Linked DNA regions of Homo sapiens: region 1 is linked to region 2. The links come from fine-mapping of genetic effects on gene expression. A gene starts in region 2. The other region holds a variant in brackets. All regions are shown on one strand. Distances are between the middles of the regions. Region 1 has its middle 20 kb from the start of RPS3. Region 2 holds the start of ARRB1 (arrestin beta 1).

The links.
Region 1: its variant is fine-mapped to the expression of ARRB1 in whole blood (TOPMed, PIP 0.97).

What each region holds. Positions count from the first base shown.
Region 1 is chr11:75,376,857-75,382,226 of GRCh38, forward strand. No RefSeq gene overlaps it. Among named protein-coding and RNA genes, the nearest start is that of RPS3, 20 kb to the right of the region's middle. RefSeq lists an enhancer at 4,325-4,973. The variant A/G (reference allele first, on the strand shown) is at 2,959.
Region 2 is chr11:75,348,410-75,353,779 of GRCh38, forward strand. It overlaps ARRB1 (arrestin beta 1), which reads right to left and starts at 3,252. Exons shown (of 16, transcript NM_004041.5): 1 at 3,179-3,252. The coding sequence starts at 3,198. RefSeq lists enhancers at 2,393-2,442, 3,505-4,460 and a silencer at 2,993-3,272.

The sequences.
Region 1 (5,370 bases), 28 kb after region 2:
TTTTATAGAATGAGGTGTTGTCCAATTCTAGAAAAAAAATTTGTTATATGTATGAAATACAAATTCAAATTTAACTGGGTGGTTTGAACTTTTATTAGCTAAGTCTGGCAACCCTATCCCTGGGTGACATTTGGCAATGTGTGGAGACACTTTTGGTTGTCAAACTGTAGGGGGGTGCGGGGTGCTACTGGCATTTAGTGAGAGAGGGGAAGGATGCTACTAAACATCCTGTAGGGCATAGGATACCCCCGCCACAACAAAGAATTCTCCAGACCAAAGTATCAATGGGTACTAGAGCACCCAGAACTCTCCTCCTCATACCCTTGACGCACCTGCCTTCCTACCCCCAAGCCATTGTGGCAAGAGACTCTTAAACTTACCACAGATGTTGGCTGGGCATGGTGGCTCATGCCTGTAATCCCAGCACTTTGGGAGGCTGAGGCGGGAGGATCACTTGAGGTCAGGAGTTCGAGACAAGCCTGGCCAAAATAATAAAACCCCATCTCTACTAAAAAATACCAAAAAAAATTAGCTGGGCATGGTGAGGCGTCCTTTCTGGACCAGCTCCTACAGCCTGGTCCCCGTGCCCATGCAGAGGTAGCTGCTGCTGCTGAGCTGATGTTGAGCATGGCAGGGACAGAGTTCTATCTTCTGCTTGGAACTGACACTGGAAAATGGGATCCTGTGGTCATGGGGGCAGTGTATTCTACTAGATTCTGCTAAGTTGCTTTAAAATTAGCTGTATCGGCTGGGCACGGTGGCTCACACCTGTAATCCCAGCACTTTGGGAGGCTGAGGCCAGCGGACCATGAGGTCAGGAGTTCGAGACCAGCCTGGCCAATATGGTGAAACCCCATCTCTACTAAAAATACAAAAATTAGCCGGGTGTGGTGGCGAGCGCCTATAGTCCCAGCTACTTGGGAGGCTAAGGCAGAAGATCGCTTGAATTCAGGAGGTGGAGGTTGCAGTAAGCCTAGATCACACCACTGCACTCCAGCCTGGGTGACAGAGCAAGACGCTGTCTCAAAAAAAAAAAAAAAAAAATTAGCTATACCATTATACTCTACCACCAGCAAGGTATGGCAGGACTGACACCAGGCTTTCAAATGCTGGCAATCTGACAGGCGAAAAGTAGCATCTTATTGTTTTAATTTGCATTTCCCTTACAATGGTAGAGATCGAATATCTTTGGATGTTCATTTTTATTTTTATTTTATTTTATTTATTTTTGGTGAGACAGAGATTTACTCTTGTTGCCCAGGCTGAAATGCAATGGCGCGATCTCGGCTTACTGCATCCCTGGCCTCCCAGGTTCAAGCGATTCTCCTGCCGCAGCCTCCCAAGTAGCTGGGATTACAGGCATGTGCCACCACGCCCGGCTAATTTTGTATTTTCAGTAGAGATGGGGTTTCACCATGTTGCCCAGGCTGATTTTGAACTCCTGACCTCAGGTGATCTGCCCGCCTCGGACTCCCAAAGTGCTGGGATTATAGGCGTGAGCCACTGTGCCCGGCCTTATTTTTTTTTTTAATTTTTTTAGTATTTATTGATCATTCTTGGGATTTGGCAGGGTCATAGGACAATAGTGGAGGGAAGGTCAGCAGATAAACATGTGAACAAAGGTCTCTGGTTTTCCTAGGCAGAGGGCCCTGCCGCCTTCCACAGTGTTTGTGTCCCTGGGTACTTGAGATTAGGGAGTGGTGATGATTCTTAACGAGCATGCTGCCTTCAAGCATCTGTTTAACAAAGCACATCTTGCACCGCCCTTAATCCATTTAACCTTGAGTGGACACAGCACATGTTTCAGAGAGCACGGGGTTGGGGGTAAGGTTATAGATTAACAGCATCCCAAGGCAGAAGAATTTTTCTTAGTACAGAACAAAATGGAGTCTCCTATGTCTACTTCTTTCTACACAGACACAGTAACAATCTGATCTCTCTTTCTTTTCCCCACATTTCCCCCTTTTCTATTCGACAAAACCGCCAGCGTCATCATGGCCCGTTCTCAATGAGCTGTTGGGTACACCTCCCAGATGGGGTGGCGGCCGGGCAGAAGGGCTCCTCACTTCCCGGACGGGGCAACTGGGCAGAGGCGCCCCCCACCTCCCAGACGGGGCGGCAGCCAGGCGGGGACTGCCCCCCACCTCCCGGACGGGGCATTTTTTATTTTTTATGTTTTTAAAATTTATTAACTCATATACCTGCACATCATACAACAGTCAAAAATCATCAGTGAGCCAGGAACGGTGGTTCACGCCTGTAATGTCAGCACTTTGGGAGGCCGAGGCAGGAGGATTGCTTGAGCTCAGGAGTTCAAGACCAGCCTGGGCAACATAATAAGATCTCATCTTTACTTTAAAATTTTTTTTAATTAGCCAGATGTGGTGGCACATGCTTGTAGTCCAGCTACTTGGGAGGCTGAGGTGGGAGGATCACTTGAGCCCAGGAGGTCAAGGCTGCAGTGATCTGTGATTGCACCAGTGCACTCTAGCCTGAGCAACAGAGCCAGACCCTGTCTCAAAAAAAAAAAAAAAAAAAAAGAGTCAGTAAAAAGTAAATCTCCTTTCCATAGATCTGAAGCCAGCTCCCATTGAAAGACCGTGTCTGAAAGAAGTTTCTGGTGTTTCCTTCCAGAGATATTCAATGCATATATAAGCACTTGGATGTACAGGCTTTCCTTTTGGTTTTTAAACAAATTGTCAACCAGGCATGGTGGCTCATGCCTGTAATCCCAGCATTTTGGGAGGCCGAGGTGGGCGGACCACTTGAGGTCAGGAGTTCAAGACCAGCCTGGCCAACATGTTGAAACCCCATCTCTGCTAAAAATGCAAAAATTAGCCAGGCATGGTGGTGGGCGCCTGTAATCCCAGCTACTCAGGAAGCTGAGGCATGAGAATCACTTGAACCCGGGAGGTGGAAGTTGCAGTGAGCCGAGATCATGCCACTGCATTCCAGCCC[A/G]GGCAACAGAACAAGACTCCAAGACTCCGTCTCAAAAAATAAACTAAACTAAACAAATTGTAACATTTTCCACAGTGTTCTGCACTTTTCTTTCTTTCTTTTTTTTTTTTTTTTATGAGACAGGGTCTTACCCTGTCATCCAGACTGGAATGCAGTGATCTTGCCTCACTGCAGCCACAACCTCCTGGGTTCAAGCAATCCTCCTGCCTCAGCCCCCCAAGTAGCTGGAACTATAGGCATGCACCACCACACCTGGCTAGTTATTTTTTTTTCTATTTTCTGTAGAGATGGGTTTTTGCCACATTGCCCAGGCTGGTCTTGAACTCCTGGGCTCATATGATCCTCCCGAAAGTGCTAGGGTTACAGGCATGAGCCACTGCACCTGGAATTTTTTTAAATCCTGGAAAATGGCTTATCCCAATACACATAGAGGTATCTCATTATTGTACATGATTCATAGTATCCCATCTGATGGACACAGTACAATTTTGAACAGTTCCCTAGCGTTGGACATTTTGGTGGCTTCCAATATTTTGCTATAGTGAATATTTTTGTGCATATACAATATCTCACCTATAGGAATGTATTTGCAGGATAATTTCCTGGAAGCACTAGAAGCGCAACTGCTGGGTCAAAGGGCAAGTGTATTTAAAATGTTCAAGGTTATTACCAAGTTGCCTTTCACATCAATTCACTGTTTATGTCATTTTATGATCATACAGAAGCTTTTTTTAAATTCAGAGAAAAATATAACACAGTCATTGTCTTTGATAATAAGAAACCAGCATTTATGAAGCATCTACTGTGTATCAGGAACTTTACACATATTGCCAAAAACACTCAGGACCCCTCTGAGGCACAATGAATTAAGTATTTTGTTCGAGGCACCCACAAAGGAGGTGGCAGAACCAGAAACCAAGCCACGGTCTGTCAGGATCCTCAGCTTGGGCCTGGGCTTGCTCCTTGTCATCATGCAGAAGCTGACACCCTGGTATGAGGAACTGGATTCCAGCATAACTCACAGTGATGTCACATGACAGGTGTCTGCATGGAGGCCTGAACCAAGAGCTGGAACACAGACCCAGAGAACAGGGCAGGTCGGGTGGCGGTGGGGTAGCTGAAGGGGCTTCACAGAGGCAAGAGCCTTGAAGGTGAGGCCTAAGGGTTGGAGGGAACAGATTTTGCTGGTGAAAAGTAGACAAGGCTGCTCAGGGGAAAGGGATCCACAAAGACATAGAGGCCTGAAAATCAACTGGGGAAAGAAGAGCTAGTGTGCACAGAGCAGAGGTTGGTCTGGGGCTGAGGCTGGAAAGGTGGGGTGCAGGCAGCGGGTGAAGAACCCCTTGCAGGCTGCTCTATGGAGCTTGGGCCTTCCAGCGGGAGGCTGCTCATCTGGGAGGCTGGACAGGGCACATGGCATGGGGTGGAGCTCAGACTCTGGAGCTAATCTTACCTCCACCCCTTCCTGGCTCTGTGCGCTGTCTCCTCCTCTGTGAAACAGAGAATCTAATTCATAACATTGTGGGAATTAAATGTGCTAAGACAAGTTTAAAAAATAAAAAACACTGGCTGGGCATGGTGGCTCACGCTTGTAATCCCAGCACTTTGGGAGGCCGAGATGGGCAGGACGGGTGCATCACGAGGTCAGGAGATGAAGACCATTCTGGCTAACACGGTGAAACCCCGTCTCTACTAAAAATACCCAAAAAATTAGCCAGGCGTGGTGGCAGGCACCTGTAGTCCCAGTTACTCAGGAGGCTGAGGCAGGAGAATGGCGTGAACCCGGGAGGCAGAGCTTGCAGTAAGCCGAGATTGCGCCACTGCACTCCAGCCTGGGCAACAGAGCGAGATTTCGTCTCAAAATAAGTAAATAAATAAATAACACCTGACACTTCACAAGCACTCAAGAAGTGGTAGCCATTTATTAGCCAACAATTGAATTGTTTTAAAAAGTTGTTTTTTTAAATGGATAACCTCTTTTTTTTAGGTTGTTAAAAAAAATCTTAGTTGGCAGAGCATTGGTTCCATTTGGCAGGAGATGACAGGAGGTGATATCATAACGGCCCAGTCCAAGCACCACTGACAAGGGTTTTGATCAGAGCGATGTCAGGTCCATCTCTGGGCAGCACAGCTGCCGAGACAGCTCTCAGTAGTTTATATGTGTTGCCAAACAATAATTGTCCTAAAGTGTTGAAATGCTGTTACGCAAATGCAGATTTTAGAAAGTTAGCATTTATTTAGCTCTTACTATTATAATTAAAGTATCTAATCCTCACACCAACCTTATTGGAGAAGTACTCTTATTATCCCCATTTTACAGATGACAAAACTGAGATCCAAAGAGAGCTTTAGGCCATCTTCCCAAGGCCACACAACTAGGGTCCACACCAGGCTTTGTGAGTCCAGAGCTTG
Region 2 (5,370 bases):
TGCGTTATGACCACCTGCTCTGCTCTAAATCCCTGGAGGACAGAGTAGACTCCTTCCTTGCTGAATCCCCAGGCCCTGGGCACTCAGAAGGCACTCATCAACATTTGTTGAATGAATATATGATTGTTCCCAGAGCACCTTGCAGCAACCATCATACTCCTGCCCTGTGATTAGTCCTGTCCAGGTATTTTTTTTTTTTATTTTTTCAGACAGGGTCTCACTCTCTCATCCAGGCTGGAGTGCAGTGGCATGATCATGGCTCACTGCAGCCTTAACCTCCAGGGCTCAAGTGATCCTCCCACTTCAGCCTCCAGAGTAGTTAGGACTATAGGCATGTGCCACCACACTCAGCTAATTTTTGTGTTTTTTGTAGAGATGGTATGTTGCCCAGACTGGTCTCGAACTCCTGAGCTCAAGCAATCTGCCCATCTCAGCCTTCCAAAGTTCTAGGATTACAGGCGTGAACCACCGCGCACAGCCCTGTCCAGGTATTTAACACCTCTTTCCCCCTTGACCCTGGGAGTTCCTAGAGGGCAATGACAGTTTGTGATAAATTTTCATTGTCACTTTCACATGGGGGTGCAATTCCAGATGGAGGGATGGTTGCGATGATTCCTGATGTTCAGTTTTTGATATCTGCAGATTCCTCTTCTAAGTCATAGGTACTCATGCCTTACGGAAAAAGACAAGGTACAGCCCATTACTGATTTTGCCCTTCTTTTCCAAATTACTTAGCCAACTGTCCGGAAAGGGACAGAAAGGCCTCATGGGGCTGCAGGAGAGTCTGAAGGGGAGGTCTGGGCCACCATCAGGTGGATTTAGCCGGGCCTTGGCTCCAGGCTTCAGGCAGTGCCTCTTCCCCTGCCCAGTGAAGTCAGTAAGTACAAGGGAAGCCCTAAAATGTAAGTATTGATAGCTCCAGTTTACAGATGGGAAACTAACGTCCGGAAAAGTAAAGGCAATTGCCCAATGTCCCAAAGGTCCACCAGTGAGTTTGAGGCAGGGCAGGGGGAGCCATGGAAAATACCTTGGCCTCAGAGACAGGGTCTCCAACAGGTGCCTGGAAGCCCATGGTGTCCACATCTTCCTGACAATCATGTCAGCAGGACAACAATGACACTTATCCCCCAAGTCACAGAGAGGTACAGAGAGACCCAAGAGAGGCTGAGTCACTCCGATCACAAGGCAGCCTAGGAAGGACAATGGAGTGGAGAATGGCTCCGACTCCCTGCTATGCCCTGCAGGAAGAAAAGCCTGACCTCATGGGTCAAGAGGGTCTTAATTTCAGGGCAGATGGATGTGGCTGGGGAAGGAGTCACATACCTTCCTACTGAGGACAGAGGCCTAGGTCACAGTGCTGGCCAGCCAGCTGCAATGGGGACTAGCCATCAAGGTTCATGCAGACACAGCATGATCTTCTGCCGTCCCCCCCAAAGCCTGGGCCTCCAGCACAGAGCAGGGCTCCCCTCCCTGGCCCATGAGGGGCCTGGCAGTGCCCTAGGGCCATCCACAGAGACATGACCAAGTGGACTCCAGCCTCCGCCCTGCCTCTGGCCCCTTTTGACCTTAGGCAAATCACATGGCCTCTAGCCCTCTGGTTCCTCTGCTAGAAAACAGGAAGAGGAAAATTAACCTCCTGGAAGAGCTGTCAGGAGGATGGCTGGAAAGTAGTTTCTAAACATTAAGAGCCTGAGTTGCCTCTGAGCCTGTTTCCTCCTCTAGAAAATGGAAATAATCTCTGCAAGCCCTTTCTCACACTGTGGAGAGAGAGTCTTAGATGGCAGTGGGTGAGAAATAGCTTTGTCAGTGGCCCTGAAAGGTGGTGCCCACCGGGGTGGTGTCTCTCTAGTCTGTTAGCTCCTTCAGGGGAGGAGTGGGCCTTGCGCATCTTTGATCCCCCACACTACGCCTAGTATACAGCAAGAGCTTAATAATAAATGGAAACGAGGAGAGGGGAGGGGAGGAAAGGAAGGAGGCAGAAGTCGGACACAAGAATAGAAGAGAAAGACAGAAAACAATGAGAAAGAGGGGGAGCCCAGGGAGAGGCTGCTGTGCCCACTTAGGGGGTGGGGAGGGCAACGGGGAAAATAGGGTGGCAACGCTGAGCCCCTGACCAGCGCTGGTCCTGTCTGAAGGGCTGCCCCCAGGGGCTGTCCTGCTCCAGCCCCCTCCTCCTTTTGTCCCAGTTTCCCCTTTCAGAGGCAGAGACTGTTTCTGAGTATTTCAGGACAGGTTCTAGGAGAACGGGAGGGGTTCTCCCAGCCCTAGGTTCAAAACAGCCCCTGGCCAGCCACTCCTCAGGAGGTCAGAGGGAAAGGGAACAGAGTAGATGGATGGGATCTATTTGGATGAAATGCGATCTGTTTTCCCCAGGCTGGGGGTGGCGGGGGGCGCTCTACCCTGTGTGATGTGTGTGTTTCCACTTCTGGCCATGTGGGGCCTGAAGCGTGTGTGTCAGCGGGCCTTGGGCTAGCAGCTCGTGCCTGTGGGGTGCCAGTCTTTGAGGGCATCAGTCTGATTGTGTCTGTGGGGGTCAGTGTTGGTGTGGCCTTGCGCTCCGCTGTGTTGGTGAGACATGCCAGCACAAGTGTGTGTGCCAGTGAGGGTGATGTGTGTGCCAGCAAGAGTGTTTGCTACAGCGAGTGCAGGTGACAGTGTGCGTATCAGTGTATGCCCACACGTGTGTGCCAGCACGAGGGTGTGCTAGAATTGGTGTGTGTTGGATTGTGAGCTGTGCATGCCAACAAGGCTGTCAGCAAGAATGTGTTGACCGAGGCGTGTATGACGGCGTGCCACTGCGTGTGATGAGCGTGTGCTAGCGGTTGCCAGTGTGTGCGCCAGCATGCCTGTGCCACGGGTTAGTGTGCCCGTGCGTGTATTGTGTGTCAACCTGCCCCCGTGCGTCTCTGCGGCTGCCGGCCAATGCTGGGTGTCAGCGAGCTGTGTGTCCGGGCCAGGAGCTGCGGCCCACATGGGGCGGCCCGGCCCTCGCCCTTTGGGTCCCCCCGCCCACGGCCCTGCCGGGGAGACCACACAGGAGACCTCGGGTGGAGGAGAGCTGGTACTAGATCCCGCGGTGGCCGCGAACGCAGAACCAGGACGCAATCGGAGCCCCCGCCCGTGTCCTCGCCGAGGTCGCCCCCACGCGCCCCCCGCCGGGCGGCCGCCCTGCACTCACCGGGTCCCTTTGTCGCCCATGGTCCGCGACGGTCGCAGGGAGGTCCGCGGCGTCAGCGCCCAGGCTGGAAAATCCCCAGCCAGCAGGAGGAGCGCGGGCCAGCCCGCTCCCGGCTCCCTGCTCCGCCTCCTCCGCTCTCCCGGCCGCCGCCGCCGCCCCCGCCCCCGGTCCCCGCCCGCCGCCCGCCGCGTCGAGCAGCGCAGCGCCCGGGCCGCGGCCAGGGGCGTGGAACCGCGCGGGGTGTGTGCGTGTGTGTATGTGTGTGTGTGTGCGCGTCTGCGTGTGCGCGCGCCGCCCAGCGAGGCAGGGCAGCGCGGCGGGACGCGTCAGGGCCCCAAGGTCGGCGTTTGTGGTGGGGGAGGGGGTCCACCCGCGTGCGAGTCCGTGTGAGAGTGTGTGTGTGTGTGTGTGGTGGTGGTGGTGGTGGTGTGGTGTATGTGAGGGCGCACGGCTGTGTGCGGGCCCTATTAGGGAGTGTATTGGTGTGGATGGAGGAGTGTGCACGTCTTTGTGCAGTTGTGCGTGTGTGCGCACGGCCGTGGGTGCGAGCGCGCTCTCCCGCGCATGCCGGGGCAGCCTTTGTGTGTGCGGGTGGTTGGAAGCCGAGGGTCTGGCGACCCCGAGGCCGCGCTCCCTGCGGCCCCTCGCTTAGCTGGAGACCCCGGGATGCCTGGCAAGGCCTTCGCCCTGTGCTCCACCCTTCCCCATTCCACCCACCCCACCCCCTTCTACTGGAGAGATAACACCCAGCCACACAACAGGGACAGGAAGAAGGGGCGGAGGGGGCAGTAGACGGCCTTGACACTGGGGAACTGAGCGGAGACCCGCGGCCAGCAGGGGCTGCAGGAGGCCGCCCAGGAAGAGGAAGCTGTGAGAAGTGAGAAGAGGCGATAAAGGAAGAGGGCAGAGCTGGCCCGCTGCTGTGACCGGGTAGCACCGTGGAAAGCGCCCATGCCCAGCTCCATGGCTCGCTGTGGGTGACCCTGTGCACTAAGCTTCTGAGAACCCATGTCCGGACCTGTAAAGTGAGGATACACTAATATCAGCCTGCAGAATTGTTAATAGGTTGAAAGAACTCGCTTGTGTTTGCTGGCCTCCCCTGAGCGCCTGCATACAGTAGGTGCCCAGTAGATGTTAGCCCACTTCTCTGCAGGCTTCTTGATGTCCTGTGAAATCTTGGCTGGGACCCTGCTTTGTCTGAGGTGCCTTCCTGCTTTGCAGGTAGTGGGAAACGGTAAGGTCTTTACCACACCCTCACTACTGAGATTTGGCTAATTATCCCGGATAGGTCCCTGATATCTAAGTATTAAGGGGAAAGTAAGCTATCATTTACTCTGATGCTGTTGTGAGTATGTAAACATCTCCTGTAATTATGCTCAGAAGCAGTTACCTATACTGTTTATATGCAGTATAATTACTATAATTATGTCCAGATTTGGCAGAGGGGCAGGGGGAGGCTGATGGGTAGGCAGGGTGGCCCACCTCTGGGCAATGTTAGGAGCTAGAGAGTATGGATGAAAGCCCAGAACCCTCCTCCCAGTCTTGGCCTCTGGGTTTCACCCTCTACAGAGGAAGAAGAGGAAGCCACCTGTTGTTTCTGCAGGGCTCAGAGATCTGGAAAGGAGCAGACTAGAATCTTCTTTGATGACAGGAGATCCCTAACCAGGATGGTGAAGCCAGGTCCTGCCACTCTCCACATCAGTTTCCCCACCTGTAAAACAGGTTTGACCAAACCATAAGATCTCCAATGGATCTCTCCATGCTGATGCCCAAAACATCTAAATATATTTATTTATTTTATTTATTTTTGAGACGAAGTCTTGCTCTGCCACCCAGGCTGGAGTACAATGGAATGATCTTGGCTCACTGCAACCTCTGCCTCCTGGGTTCAAGAAATTCTGCCACCTCAGCCTCCCCAGTAGCTGGAATTACAGCCACTGCCATCATGCCCAGCTAATTTTTGTATTTTTGTAGAGATAGGGATTCACCATGTTGGCCAGGCTGGTCTCGAACTCCTGACCTTAGGTGATCCACCCACCTTGGCCTCCCAAAGTGCTGGGATTACAGGCGTGAGCCACTGCTCCCGGTCGATTTAATTTACTTTAAATTCCAGTGAGGGAGCAACGATGGCAGAAGAAGAGTCAAGAGGACAATTTTGCTTTACCTGCCAGGCTCTATGAAAAACATATATA